3 separate regions of the Homo sapiens genome follow, and regions 2 and 3 are each linked to region 1. Evidence: fine-mapped QTL for protein levels in blood plasma. A gene starts in region 1. Each other region holds a variant in brackets. All regions are shown on one strand. Distances are between the middles of the regions. Region 1 holds the start of FGL1 (fibrinogen like 1). Region 2 overlaps FGL1 (fibrinogen like 1). Region 3 overlaps FGL1 (fibrinogen like 1).

What was found. PIP is the posterior inclusion probability: the model's chance that the variant is causal. Protein levels are from antibody-based Olink assays in UK Biobank. Linkage for the fine-mapping came from a reference panel and not from the study's own genotypes, which makes the PIPs less certain.
Region 2: its variant is fine-mapped to the plasma level of the FGL1 protein (UK Biobank, PIP above 0.99). The variant lies in the coding sequence of FGL1. If it changes the protein, the assay may bind it differently, which can mimic a change of level.
Region 3: its variant is fine-mapped to the plasma level of the FGL1 protein (UK Biobank, PIP 0.91). The variant lies in the coding sequence of FGL1. If it changes the protein, the assay may bind it differently, which can mimic a change of level.

Annotation. Positions count from the first base shown.
Region 1 is chr8:17,893,246-17,898,482 of GRCh38, forward strand. It overlaps FGL1 (fibrinogen like 1), which reads right to left and starts at 2,279. Exons shown (of 8, transcript NM_004467.4): 1 at 2,202-2,279.
Region 2 is chr8:17,865,365-17,870,601 of GRCh38, forward strand. It overlaps FGL1 (fibrinogen like 1), which reads right to left. Exons shown (of 8, transcript NM_004467.4): 6 at 3,552-3,640; 7 at 3,184-3,371. Among named protein-coding and RNA genes, the nearest start is that of FGL1, 28 kb to the right of the region's middle. The variant C/A (reference allele first, on the strand shown) is at 3,196.
Region 3 is chr8:17,871,803-17,877,039 of GRCh38, forward strand. FGL1 (fibrinogen like 1) reads right to left here. Exons shown (of 8, transcript NM_004467.4): 4 at 2,560-2,719; 5 at 2,217-2,314. Among named protein-coding and RNA genes, the nearest start is that of FGL1, 21 kb to the right of the region's middle. The variant T/C (reference allele first, on the strand shown) is at 2,624.

The DNA of each region.
Region 1 (5,237 bases):
TAAAAAAGAAATTTTCTCATTCCAATGTTTGATTCTGGCTCTTGCATAAATGGAAGTATGTTTTGAAAATGCTCTGAATGATGCACCTATATATCATATAATTTTACCTACGCACACTGTATATATACGTATATGTATGAACATAACATTATTATACATAATATGTATATATTATAGATTATATTATATATACATTATATAAGGTATATAAATATTGCTTAGCATTAGATTTAGTAAAAAATAAAGGGCTAATGAAATTTTTTTGACAGGCCTCTGTCTCTTGATGTCCTGAAATGTTTATCTCACTACCATTAAGATAATCCAATAATCAAAAAGGCACCCCCTAGTCTGGTAGCATATAAACAATAAAGCATTTCAAAATGTAATTATTTACATTTAGAAAGTCATTATATTACTTTGATTAGCTTTAGAATAATTCCTGAGAATATCTTAAGTTCTCTAAAATTTTCCATTTTCCTCCTTTGCAATTCTAACCAACATTCTCTGTAATATTGAAGAAATGCTAAGCATTAAGAAACTTGCTTTGAAATTCTGGTCTCCATCATTCATTATAGTAAACCATTATTTCTTCTGCACATCTGGCTTACAGTAAAGTTGTATCAAATTATTCTGTTCATTTATTGCACAATTAGTTGTATTTCTTTTATAATATTTTTGCCTTAGGCAGTATCAAAACTTTTAATTATTATAAAATTAAAATTGTTATCAAATGGCTGTTCTTTGGTGGACTATATTATTTTACATAATTTTAATGCTATAAATTCTAATTCCTTCCCCACTATATTTAAAAAAAATTTAATTAATTACGCTGCATTAAATTTAAAGATGAAGACATTAAATTTGTAAATGAAAAGTTCTAAAAATAATATATAATTTTTAAAAACAATTACAAAACAGAAGTACATTAGTAGCATGCAAACATTTCAAAACTGGTATGTTTTAAGCAAGCATTGTAAAAGGATATATAAAAGAAATAAAAAGGAAGGAAAAAGTTATTGAACGAAGTATGTTTAATAAGTTAGCATTCACAAACGCTATAGGACTATAATGCTTAGGACTATAACCTAAGTCAGTGAGTTAAAAATGTACCCATAAACACAAGCTTAGAGACTCCTTTTAAGCTATTTCCTTCCAAATTTTTTCCTCTTTCTGAAAATGGAATATAACTGTGCTTTTGTATTTTTCTTAAGAATCCATACTCACTGAAAGCCTTACAAAGCTAAATATAGTTGATCCCTCAAGAAATGCAATAAAGAAAAATGTTTCTGAAGTTTTTTGACTTCTGAAGTGAAAATTGTCATATAGTCCATTTTATTTTTAATTTTTTATACTGAAACTGTAAACCTATCATTTACGTCAAACTCCCATGCAATTCATTCAAAATGTAAAGGAAATTATACAAAGTGAGACTCCATCTCAAAAAACCAACAAACAAACGACAACAACAAAAAACGCCTAGAGCTTAAAAAAGAAATTTTCTTATTCCAATGTTTGATTCTGGCTCTTGCATAAATGGAAGTATGTTTTGAAAATGCTCTGGGTGATGCACCTATATATCATATAATTTTACCTGCGCACACTGTATATATATGTATATGTATGTACGTAACATTATTATACATAATTATGTATATATTATAGATTATATATACATTATATAAGGTATATAAATATTGCTTAGCATTAGATTTAGTAAAAAATAAAGGGCTAATGAAATTTTTTTGACAGGCCTCTGTCTCTTGATGTCCTGAAATGTTCATCTCATTACCATTAAGATAATCCAATAATCAAAAAGGCACCCCCTAGTCTGGTAGCATATAAACAATAAAGCATTTCAAAATGTAATTATACATATTTAGAAAGTCATTATATTACTTTGATTAGCTTTAGAATAATTCCTGAGAATATCTTAAGTTCTCTAAAATTTTCCATTTTCCTCATTTGTAATTCTAACATACCTTATTTGTATATCTGTATATTTGTATATCTGTATATCTGTAACAAAAGATACATAATTCTAAATCTCTTCTCCAAGTAGCAGAAGCAGACTCCTTGCTAGTCAACCTGACTTCTTGCAAAAGCTAATGGTTGTTACCTGAGTTTTGGTTACTATCATACCTGTGAAATAAATTAGCATTATTACAAGCATGTCAAAAATGCAGAGACATTAAATAACTTGCCTAAAGTCAGAAGTGAGTCAGAGACCCAGCTCAGGTTCCATCCAGACACTCTGCTTCCCAGGATCCTGTAACTGCATTGGGAATTTGTAATTATTTCTCCATTATTTGATTAGAAATAGGGACAATGTTGATTCTGGCTTCAATCCAGAAACAAACATGTGGACACAGGTTTAACTGAAAGAAAGCTAAAAGAGAAGATTCAAGGACAAATCCCAATACTCTGATATTTTTCTTTTTTCCCCACTTGTATGACTTTTTGTGAAAGATCCAATAATATATCTTTATAAAGATATATATATTTTACAACTTATTATTATGTTCATTCAGAGAATTTTTGTACTGTAACTTCAATAATGTTCCATTGAAGATTAAGTAAAAACGAAGTCCAGCTGAAACTTTGCTTTGTATTAAGGGTAATAACATTTTACCCACAAAAATATGAATTAATATGTCATCTCAACTAAAATATGGAGATAAGCCAAATTTTTCCTAGTTATAAAAAACAAGGCAGGTTAATAATTGCCAAGGTGAAATGGTCAGTTTATTTGCTCTCTAAGAAAAACAAAAGTATTCCCTGAGGTGCAAAATTGTGAAATTTAACTGGAAGCATCGATTATACTCTGGACAAGTTGTTCCTTTTGTTTTAAAATCCTCTAGAAGATTTTCTAATGTGTAATAGGCACTTGTTAGCTCCATTAATCGTATTGTGTAACAGTTTCTTACTGGAAATCTGGGTTCATCATTTCTTCTTTCCTTCTGATGTAACTCAAGCAGTTGTTTGCCATTTGTCCTGTGGTCCCTATTTATTCACTCAGATTCCAGTAAAATACCAAAGTTTTGTTTTCTTTCTGTTCTTTGTTATCTACTGGACTTGAGCACTGACGATGTTTGGTCTTCCCATTAAACATCTTCCTGTCCTTCACGTGGACATTTTGAAGATTATTAAGGGAAAGGTAATCCTGTTGATTTACTGGAAAAAAGAAGGAAAAAAAAAGCCAGTTAGACTGAAGTGATTTGCACACACACAGAAGAAGTGGAAATTATACATTCATAATTGTAGAGAATTCAAGCTGCTAATGTTAAATTTCAAAAGCAAAAATATGGGATTATTCGGCTAATTCAATAATGATCTCTGTGGTAAAATGACATATTTTGAAATACAAACTTATCTTTCCTTCTTGTATGCCTTTAGCTTTGTCCCCATTCAAGCAATAATTTAGCCTTGTGTTCATTTCCTCACTGGAGGGACATAACATTAACAGCAGCTAACATGTGGTATACTTATCATGTGCTAAACATGGTAATTTTATCAACTCACTCAGCCACACAGCCCTATAAGTAGGTACTGTTAATGATCTCCATTTCACAAATGACGAAACTGAGACACAGAGGTTTAAGTGACTTGCACGAGGTCACACAGCTAACAAGAGGTATAGCTGGGCTCAAAGGCAATCCTGCTCAGAATCTGTCCTCTTTTCTACTAAAGGTAGACTATGCTGTCTTTCGGAAACTTGGCTAGCATCATTACCTCAGGAGAAACTTGCAAAAGTTAATCAGGCAGTAAGGACTACTCTAGGGCCAATACTTTGTGGAGGAATTCCAAAAGCCAAATTTTCTTGGAGTAACATTATTCCATGGATGTACTGCCATAACATGGTGGAAGAACTATCATCAGGAAAGGTCAAAATTATGGCCAGGTGCGGTGGCTCACGCCTGTAATCCCAACGCTTTGGGAGGCTGAGGCAGGTGGATCACCTGAGGTCAGGAGTTCGAGACCAGCCTGGCCAAAATGGCAAAACCCCATGTATTTTTAGTTTCTACTAAAACTACAAAAATTATCCAGGTGTGGTGGTGGGCGTCTGTGGTACCAGCTACACAGGAGGCTGAGGAGGAGAATTACTTGAACCCAGGAGGCAGAGATTGCAGTGAGCCGAGATCGCGCCACTGCACTGCAGCCTGGGTGACAGAGCAAGACCCTGTCAAAAAAAAAGAAAAAGAAAAAAAGCAAGAAAGAAGAGTTGTGACCTTGCACAACTGCACCAAAGCTATGAAATGAGAATGAGACCTGAGATCACTGGCTGAAAAAAGTACAAGAAAAGCATGATATAATAGGACAACAAGTACAGTCCCACCAAGATCAGGCTGATTAGGCTCTCAAACACATTAAACGGACACTGTCAATTCTTTTTTCCTTTTCCTTTTGGAAGACCTTTTTCAGAGAACTCTTCAATTAATACATCAGTTACAGCACAATTTTCATCCAAACCCTCTGGACCCTGTATTGTGCCTGCCAGATTGAACACCTGTCCATTATTTGATACTTGACCCAGTCACCGTGGGAAGGTTTAATTCCAGATCTTGCCGCCTCCAGTCCACTCAAGCTTGCAGCGAGGAACATGTCTACTTAAGGCTGCATGAGGAACTAGACTCAGACAAATGATCTTATATCCTTGACTGTATTCTACCAGCATAAATTTCTGATGGTTATATTTTCCAAACTTGACTCCCAGTTCAGGAGGCACCCTTTTATGGGACTTATAAAACTCCATGCTCTGATTACAATGATAACATTTTAAACTTCAAATGTGCCCTTTATTAAAATATTTAGAACGGAGCGTATTGTAGATATCAAGGAAAGGGGTTGTTAAGAACAGTCTTCGTTCCACACAACTAGCAGAGCTTCCTCAGGTGGAGGTAATCAAATTCCTTCCTGAAATGCTGGTTTCAATGTCATCTCAGGCAGAGTCCTGAAAAACTAGAAAGTTTATTTGCACATAACGTAGGTCTCAGAAATTTCAATGGAGAAGCATTTTAAAATTAATAAAACTAAAACAGTTTTACTAGTGAGTTATCCTAAGTATTCCCATTATTGATGTAACTAGCAGAAAGTTTACATTAATAGATGATCAATAAATAGTTCCACCTTCACACACACTTTCTGGGAAAGATTCTGACAATATGAACTAGAAAAATAAGGGTAAAGGTGGATAAAGAAAAAGAGGAAGAAAAGAAAAATTGAGGTGCTTTGTAATGTGT
Region 2 (5,237 bases), 28 kb before region 1:
TTGCACTCACACGTTCATTCCTCTGCTGCTAAGACTTAGCTTTCATAATTCAAACTCCGTATGTCCCCTTCTTTAAATTGCTAGCCTATCAGTTATTTCAATCTCAAGGGTAAGCAAACAAACCTAAATCACCATTTAAAGTTTTGCCACCCATCAACCAATAATCATTTTTTCCTAGTTGCTGAGTTAATTTTTTACATATATTGCACCAATCTAGATAAGCTGGTTAGGTTATCGACAATATAAAAATGTTTCTTTCCTCCTTTGGAGTCTGTAAATTTTGTCCTTGATATGTATAATTTACATGTAACAGTATGCAATAAGTTTATGTGTGTTGTTATGAAATTAATTGCCATATACTTCTTTATTGATAAAATTAATGAAAAGATGTCAGAATTAGGATAGAAGGAGAACATTCACAAGAGGTAGTTCTGAACATCTATGGAAAAACCCAAATTATTGAATCAAAAAAGCATATAATCTACCCGTAAAGGCTGAGTGGCTGGCTTGAATCACTTATCAGCTTAATGATTCACTCCTACTGAGCGTTCTCGAAGTCCTCCTAACTTAAATGGACGTAATTAATTGAAAATATGTATGTCAAGTCTGCAAATGTCAAAGCCTACTGTGTTTTTAAAACAGCATGGAAAGTAATGTTAAAAAAAGAAAATACTGTAAATTGAGTCTCCAGAATATATATTTTGGCATATATTTGTCTATCTAGAGACATCTGCTAACTATATTTTTATATTTGGTCTATCATTTGAATCCCATTAGGAAACTGACTCTGTGATGAACATAAGAAACCTTCACTATTCTGAGACCAGTTTTCTAGCATCGTTTAGTTTTTAGAACAGCCTGGATTTGAAACTAGGTTAGGGGATGATTGGGTCTTCCTTGGTGAAGAAGTGGCTGTGAACACTCACGTGAAATGCTACACTAACAAAGAAAAGACATCAACTCGCAGTGATTGGTTTGCTATGTGGAAAAAAACATTTTATAGGTGGGTAATATTTATGAAGTGCCAACATTTCATGTAAATTAGAAGAACTATGGGACAGAAAAAAAGCAACAGTAAGAAGGAAGAAAAGATGATAGTCGAACTCACTGATAGTAGGCATGGTAGAAGTAGCACCAAGTTTCTAAAACAATCTACTTTCTCTCCCTTAATGCCTACTGATTTTCCAATTGCACAGCCTTATCAACCCCTTTGATTCCAAGGATAATGTGGGCTCTGTGGCAGGCTCCACCTAATGAATGGCCTTTCTTTGTGCTCCCTGAACCCATTTCTTTAAAGTCAGGTAAATCGTTCCTTTGCCCACATTAATATACATGGTAGTTTTCATTCAGATGCCTTAGAAGCCAGTCAGCTGGATAAAGTACATGGTTTTGATCTCAGGATACTATTAGTAATTATTTCTGTATATGGAATTGTTTTCAAAATCAAACATTGGTGATGCTTGCAGATGACTTCATGAATTACACGTTAAGTTTTATGTCATGCTGACTTAGAAGAACAAGGGGGAAAGAAAGGAGTAGGAACAGGTGAAGAAGACGGTTTTTAAAATAACAGGAAAACCACTAAGGAAAACACCATCATCACCTTCAATTTGCAAAGCAGGAGAGTGAAATTTGTTTCTCTCCTTCACACTGCTGGAAATACTCCAGTTCCTTTATAAATGATCAAATCTTAAATGGACTCAAATGTTTTTTTAAAAAAGCAAAATATAGAAAAGATGACTATTTTTACAACAGCAGTAGTACTCCCTTATCTGCAGGGGATACGTTCTAAGACCCCTAGTGGATGCCTGAAACTACAGATAATACCAAATTCTATATATTGATACTATGCTTTTTCAGTCTGATAACCGAAACAGCTACGAAGTGAGTAACGAGCAGATAAAGAAAATAAAATTTACCAAACTGAAAGACATGATATAGATTCAAAAGAACCACTGAGTACCCACTGCAGTAAACCAAAAGAAGACCACGACAGTGTATGTCACTGTAAAATTTCAGAACGCTAGGGGGAAAAATCTTTTGGGTGTAGGAAGGAAAAAAACCATCTATAGTAGTTCTCTGTTTTTTCCTATAATATACATACCTATGACAAAGTTAATTTATAAATTAGACACAGTAAGAGATTAACAACAACTAATAATAAAAGATTATGATTATATAACAATATGTCAGCATTACAGCTCTTGTGCTTTGGGACCATTATTAAATCAAATAAGCATGATTCGAACACGAGCACTATGAAACTCCAACACTGGATCTGATAACTCAGACTTCTACTAAGTGTCTTGGGGCAGGGAGGGCTTTCAGCGTGGATACGCTAGACAGAGGGGTGACCCACCTCCTGGGCAGAAAGAATCCAATGGTGCGAATCTCTGCTCAGAATGACATGCAATTTAAAACTTATGAATTCGGCAGGGTGCGGTGGCTCACGCCCAACACTTTGGGAGGCCGGGGTAGGTGGATCACATGAGGCCAGGAGTTCGAGACCTGCCTGGGCAACATGGCAAAACCCCATCTCTACCAAAAATGCAAAAATTAGCCCATGTACCCCAGAAATATATAAAATATTTTGTATCAGTAAAAAAAGAAGCAACTATATACAATCAAAAACGGAATGAATTTGCTGATAAAGTAACATGAATGTATTCAGTCAGAGGGTAGAATTAGGTTTCTGGATTATTGTAAAGGAAATTTCTGTATTGGGAGAGGCTTAGACTCAATGAATTAATGAAAGCCATAGTGATTGAAAAGTAGTACTATACAGAAGCATTACAGCAATAACGGTGGCTCTTTTGTGTGATATGGTCAGGTGAAGAACTAGTTGGTTATTAGGATGCCAAATAGTCTCCATATATATACATGCTCTCTCTTTCTTTGTGTGAATTTGTGGCCTTCTATTTATAACTCATCCATAATTCAGTTTGCAAATGATCTTTGTAAAAGTAATAATTTATTTCTATGACATTTACACTTTACTAATGTACACAATGAACAAATCCTCAAAACGACTTCATTGCTGAAGAATTCTAATGAGAATGATTACTTAATAATACTAATATTATAAATAAAGACTAACATTACCATACATATTATATTGATAATTAATGTCTATCAGTGAGATATCATCAACTCCATTACAACTATGCTCATAAGACATCAAACCTGTTAAACCAC[C/A]AGCCAGACTGATCTTCTTCTGCGCAGTTCCCTTCATAGTTGTCATGATCTCTGTCCCACGTGCTGAATTTCATTCTTTGGTGACTAGCCCACCACTGCACCTCAGGATGAAAATTCCCCGCAAGGGAATCTCCAGCTGTTCCAGAATATTCCCCAATATTCAACTCGTAGAAATTCTAAAGAAAAAGGGCATTTCTGCTGTCAGTGGAGTTCCTCTATGACCATTTTAAAATTAAGTTTATTTCATAAACAAAAGAACAGGTTCTATTGTATATTTTTATTTCCACTGACTCCAGGGTTATATTGCACATTTTAAGCATTTATTCACGGTTTTACTTCTTAGAAAATTGTAGTACCTTTTCATCTCCAACTTTGAAATTCTTATATTGTGCATAACGGCTATTTTTTTCAAAATCTGCAAGGTCGATTTTTAAAGTGTAGTCTTCTAAAAAAGAAACAAGCAATTATAATTTTTAAAAATGTGTGACATGACACGGACTACTGCGGTTTAAAAATAATTCACAGCTCTATTTTAATTTTACCATTTCCCTTGGCCAAGAATCAGTTTTCAAAGATTAAACAGTGACTCCTTTGTATATATAACATGAACATTTTATCGTGTAATTTATTTGAAAAAAAATGATGGATACAATATTAAATTTAAAAAATGTCTACTAGATCTCTTAGAGGTAAAACCTAGTGCAATTCACTGAATAATGAACAACAGAAAAAATAAGTGATTACTTAAAGCAATCTAACAATGAAAGGGTCGACGTTTTACCTTTAATAGTTTGACCTCTTTTTCTTGATTTCAGTAAGAATGTTGATCTTGAATATAAATGGTGGCTATTAATGACATTGTGTAATCTCTAGTAGCTGAGCCACTAGGTTTGTAAAATGTAGTTGCCATTGCCTGCATATGCCTGAACTTGGTTATTTTCCTGATAGCATAAAAGATCAGCCAGGAAACCCTTTAAGAATAATTTGAGGAAGAAATATGAATCCTAATTGTTATCCGAAAACCTTCGTTTGATACTGGCTCATAAGATCAAGAGACTCTTAGCATCAAAGTATGTAGAGTGGATGTCATTGGAAGAGAATTTCAGAGGCAATAAGGAAACATTCTGGAGAAATGCTGTACCACCAACATTCTCAATGGCAGAGATGATGATAATTACTGGAAAATATACTAACATCAATGACTCTGAGTAAAAAGGTATTTCTGAAGAACTGATATCTACATGTGAAAGCATTTTAAGAATGCAATGGGGCCGGGGCGGTGGCTCACGCCTGTAATCCCAGCACTTTGGGAGGCCGAGGCGGGCGGATCACGAGGTCAGGAGATAGAGACCATCCTGGCTAACACTGTGAAACCCCGTCTCTACTAAAAAATACAAAAAATTAGCCGGGCATGGTGGCGGGCACCTGTAGTCCCAGCTACTTGGGAGGCTGAGGCAGGAGAATGGCGTGAACCCAGAAGGCAGAGCTTGCAGTGAGCCGAGATTGCTCCACTGCACTCCAGCCTGGGCGACAGAGCGAGACTCCGTCGCAAAAAACAACAAAAAAACAAAAAAAAGAATACAATGTATTGGGTACATATTATCTTTTATATATGCTAAAGAATGATATATGATGACAAAAAATCTCTAAACATTAAAGATATACTTTAATGACTGTAAAAATTCTAGGCGATATAAGAGCATTATGTTTTTAAAATGATTAAAATAATTGCTACCTTCAAGTAATCTTTTTTTTCCCATTGTTTGGAAATAACAAAGACTATTCCTTTTTCAGAAACAGAACTCTTGTCAGGGGCACCAAATGTTATAAATCAAATTATTAGATCACATGTGTTCTATCCTCCTACTTTGATAAATAAGATATAACAATGACCTGTAAGGTCGGGTTAGAATTTAGAGCCTCACTTTCCTTGGAGTTTCAAGCCAGACCATGGAGGCACTGGGAAAGAGAGTCCCTGAATAGTCCTATCACCTAGGCCCCATCTCTGGTTGGCCTCTTCTCTCTTTCCATCCCCATCTCCA
Region 3 (5,237 bases), 21 kb before region 1:
CTCCAACGAGATTAGCCAGCCTGAGTACCAAGTTGATATATGAAAAGGAACAGGTTTGTTGGCAAAGTTCCTCTGGGAAAATATGTACATCATAATAACTTAAAAAATAATACGTTTGAATTTCATATATTTAGAAAGAGCCAAGGGTTACTGCTCTGGGGTTTTCATAGTTTCAATAAGAAACCAGATAAATATCAATGTGCAAATGAAACAGAAGTTGGTATGGCAAATTTTATATATCTGGCATAAAACACTTAAAACTAGAATAATAGATATGTTGAAGGAAAGGAAGCGTTATGTAAATTTAGAGAGCACTGATCATAAGAAGGACATACAAAGAAAGTATAAGGTTTCTAGGATTACTCATCCTGTCTAATGTTTATCATTCTAGTGTCTCAAAGAACTTTATAACCATAAGCCTACTACTATAAATATAGAAACACCAATAGCTTTCCAGAACTTGGATGGAACAAAGGAACTTTTGTTTTATCTTAATTACTTTATTATTATTATTATTTGAGACAGAGTCTTGCTCTGTCACCCAGGCTGGAGTGGATTGGCGCAATCTTGGCTCACTGCAACCTCCGCCTCTTGGGTTCAAGCAATTCTCCTGCCTCAGCCTCCCAAGTGGCTGGGATTACAGTGCTGTGCCACCATGCCTGGCTAATTTTTGTATTTTTAGTAGAGATGGGGTTTCACCATGTTGGCCAGGCTGGTCTCGAAATCCTGGCCCCAAGGGGTCCACCCACCTCAGCATCCCAAAGTGCTGGGATTACAGGCATGAGCCACCATGCCCAGCTGTTTATTTTTAATGCAATTGCAGTGTAACTTAGCATGCTTTTTTGGGCATTACAGTTGCCTTTTATGAAGGATTCAGGATCAGACTTGAGTGGGACTGATGATAATCTCAGACTACAACAGAGGTAGGGAAGACAATGGATTGGAGCAAAAGAACATGGGAGATAGAAGCTGGGAAAAGTCGTTATCAAAACAATGATATTTTAGACAAATATTAAACTCTAAAGATAAGAATTTAAAAGTATATAGGGAGACATCCAGATGTCTGCTATTTACTTTGAAATATATATACAGAAAAGATGGATTGATGGACGGATTGAGTAATGGGCAAACGGATAGATACGTAACAAAAACAAGCAAAGTAAAATGTTAATGTAGGATACAGGTGGTAGGTTGAAACTTCTTTCAAATTGGTTGCAGCTTTGAAAAAATTTCAGCATTAAAGATGAGATGTATGTGGAAACATGGACATTTCATATATTATAGTGTTTTATTGGAAAAATAGCACCAATTGCCCAATTGTTCACCTCTCTCTCATAATATGTCTTCATAGCTCCTCCTATTGTTTACTTCCTTTTAAAAAAAAGTCTGAGCTGCTCCTGTGATTTGCTTTCACCAATAGAAGAAAAATGACTCCATGCCAATTCTGGGCCTAGATCTCAAGAGACTTATATACATCCACTCTTTTTTGTGGAACCCTGCCTGTGCTACAAAAACAAGTCCAGGCTAGCTAGCTGGAAGATGAGAGACCCTATGGAGCCAGGTTGAATCCTTCCATCCCAGAGCAGCAACTTCAGTGAGGAAGTTGATGGCAGACTCATAAGCAAGCCCAGCCATGATCAGCAGAGCCCAGCCCTGATCAGCAAAATCACCCAGCCAACCTGCAGATTTGTGAGAAGTAATAAATGGTTGTTGATTTTAAGCCACTAAGCTTTGGAAGAGGATTGTTACACGTTATTATTGTGACATTAGGTAACTGATACAGCATATATAATCTCCAGGAACTCAAGGCATCAAAAAGGAATAATTATGACATTATATATCCTTTTCAGAAGTAGAATATATATATATTCTATATATATCTATAGATACATATAGCGACTTATATTCTATATATCTATATATAGCTACATATATACTATGTATAGAATGTATATATATCTATAAATATATTTAGATATTTCTCATAAATATATATGTGAAAACAATTCCCCGCAACCCAATTCTAGCTTTTTTTTCTGTTTCTAATTTTAGGCAGCCACATTTTACATTTGGGATTATTGCCCAAAAGTTATCACTGCCATCTGCAAATCATAGCAATTATTGAATTAGTTCCATTGCCTATAATTTGGTTAAAAAAAAATTTTAGTGTTGTTTTTATTATATTTCAAATAAATCTGACATCATTCAAACCTTACCTTGAGTGGTCAAGAAGTGAAGATTTTTATTGCCCAGCCAATATTCACCATGTTTTTGGACAAAATTTCCAAAGCCATTTTCATAGTCTTTCCATCCTCTAAAAAAGGTAAAGTGGAAGCCGATTAGAGCAAACTCCATTTGTGGTACCAAAGCGACCACCACCCACCCCCTGCTACCACCACCTCCAATATTTTCTTGATTAGTTAATTCATTTTCAGTATTCTTCTTTAGAGAGATTGAAATTCTGTCTAATTAATAGGCTTCAGGATATGATCAAAATATTTGACTTATAAATCTCACATTTGCTGCTACATATAAAGTCTTACATCATAATTAGCACACCTGTTAAAGTTTTCACTGCCATCAGATCGTCTCTGAATTACAGTCCATCCTCCTCCATCGGACA[T/C]GTCACAATAAACAGAAAATTCTGCTGGGCTCTGGAGAGGTTTGATTTTGTAAAATCCACTGAGCTTATACCCATCATTGAAAATCTCTGAACAATCTGTTTTTAAAACAAGGTAATGTAACATTCATTATGTGTCTTTTTCTCCCCCCGCCTTAGGGAGCCTCTGAATGAGACTACTCAGTATCACTGGAGACAGATAACACATGGTATAGAAATCAGCGTTTTAAAATTGCATCTTGTACATCTTCCAGTGGATATTAGGAAAGTTTTATTTCCTTTGCTAAAATTTGCCACCTGAATCCTTGATATAATCATCGAGGAAAAAAGGGGAGTGAAATAAGAATCTAGTTTTTTGTTTCTTTCTTCTTTTTTCTTTTACATTTTTTTTAAGAAATGGGGGCGTGTCACTATATTGCCCAGGCTGGTCTCGAACTCCTGGCTTCAAACAATCCTATCCTCCCACCACAGACTCCCAAAGGGCTGGGATTACAGGTGTGAGCTTAGTTTCTAATTTCTGAGTTTTGTAGAAAACAATCTTAAAAAAAACAAGTTATGAGTAGTCTGTTAATAACAGTATATTTAGGTGGAACTTACAGTTTTATCAGACGGAATAGTAAAATTTATCTCACCCATGAAGCTAAAATGAAAGCAGAAATGTTAACACCAAAGTTACTACAGGTTATCCTGACTTAGAGCATGATAAATCATTCTGGACATCTGAAAATGAACCCAAAATAGTAATCTTGTAAAAATCTTTATTATTATACTTTAAGTTCTAGGGTACATGTGCACAACATGCAGGTTTGTTACATATGTATATGTGTGCCATGTTGGTGTGCTGCACCCATAATCTTGTCAAAATCTTATAATCTCTTAGCCTTATTAGATTTTTTACTAACCCACTGAAGTTTCTAAAAGTCCATACATTCTTAGATGTTTTTGCTAAAAACTGCAAGCTTCTGCTATTCTTTTCATCCCTTAATTCTTTTTTGCTGTGGTATTTCTTTGAACACTGAAGCAAATGTAGCTACCCCTTTGTCACCAAAAAGTGATATCTCTTTCTTTCTTTCTTTCTTTCTTTCTTTCTTTCTTTCTTTCTTTCTTTCTTTCTCTTTCTTTCTTTCTTTCTTTCTTTCTTTCTTTCTTTCTTTCTTTCTTTCTTTCTTTCTTTCTTTCTTTCTTTCTTTCTTTTCCTTTGAGACAGAGTCTTGCTCTTTCGCCCAGGCTGGAGTGCAATGGTGCTATTTCGGCTCACTACAACCTCCGCCTCCCGGGTTCAAGCGATTCTCCTGCCTCAGCCTCCTGAGTAGCTGGGATCACAGCCACGCACCTACACACCTGGCTAATTTTTTTGTATTTTTAGTACAGACTGGATTTTGCCATGTTGGCCAGACTGGTCTCAAACTCCTGAGGTCAGGCCATCCGCCCGCCTCGGCCTCCAAAGTGAAAGGATGACAGGTGTGAGCCACCACACCCTGCCAAATGGTGATGTCTGTTCCTTAAGCCACTTGAGGGTGATGTAAATTAATACCCATTGGGTCTCACCTAGGTTGATCTGTACAGACTTAGAGAACGTGGCAAATGGGGACCTCTCTATTGTTCAGATGCATAGAAAGCTAGGTTTTAGGATGATTGAAGTAGTGGTCACTATAAACAATCTCAAGAAGAGCCGTCTACAAACATTTGAATAAAAATACTATAACATCATCAACTTTCACTTTTACCCTTATCGCTTTGTTAATTTCCTTAACAAAAAATTTTTTTCTTATTGGATAATTCCATTCTTGTAGCATATTTTAAAGATGTTTAAAGATTTAAAAACAAATGTTCATTGTTTTGATACTAGATTGCCAAATTTACAACTCTCTTGTTTTGTTACAGATAAAATATATTGCACATTAAGTAGGTGAATAGGCCATAGACATCAGAAGAGAAAAGAAAAGAAAGAACCTTAGTCATTTTATAAAGCCTTCACATGGTTGGGACCAACCATATACTCCTGCTTTGGTGAGATGTTTACCTTTGTAATGATTTAGGCTTTATTCATATATTTATTTTCAAGATTCAGAAGCACATGCGTTCATATACATGCTAAATTATAAAAAGGATCCTGTTTTGGCAATTAAACAAGAAGCAAAACAATGAGAAAATGATTATCTAAAATTAGTTCAATGTTGTTATAAAGTTTACATCTTGTAGTCAAGTATATAGTACAACACTTTTATTAAAGTAAGCAGATTTTAGCCCTATTTGGAAAGAAGCTTTTTGCTTACATTAAATTTCCTACCAAAGAGCTGAATACTAAAGACTCACAAGGATCAAACTATTTTCCAGGCAAATATGGAAGTGATTAGCTATAACATTTGCCTCTGGAAAACTTAGTGAATATAGAGGTTTCAGCCAAAATTTTCTACTTGTTATTATTTTATGCTAACTGCGAGTTTGTTATTTCTTTGGTCTTGTTTTTGAAATTTTCCTTCTCCCCAGAAGAAAATGCCAAACACAACTTAAGAAAAGCTTTTAACTGAAATAAACAGTAACACAACAACAAAACCCCCAACAAATAAATAAACATTAAAAAAGCAAAAAAGCACCAGTAGTTCAATTTGCTTAT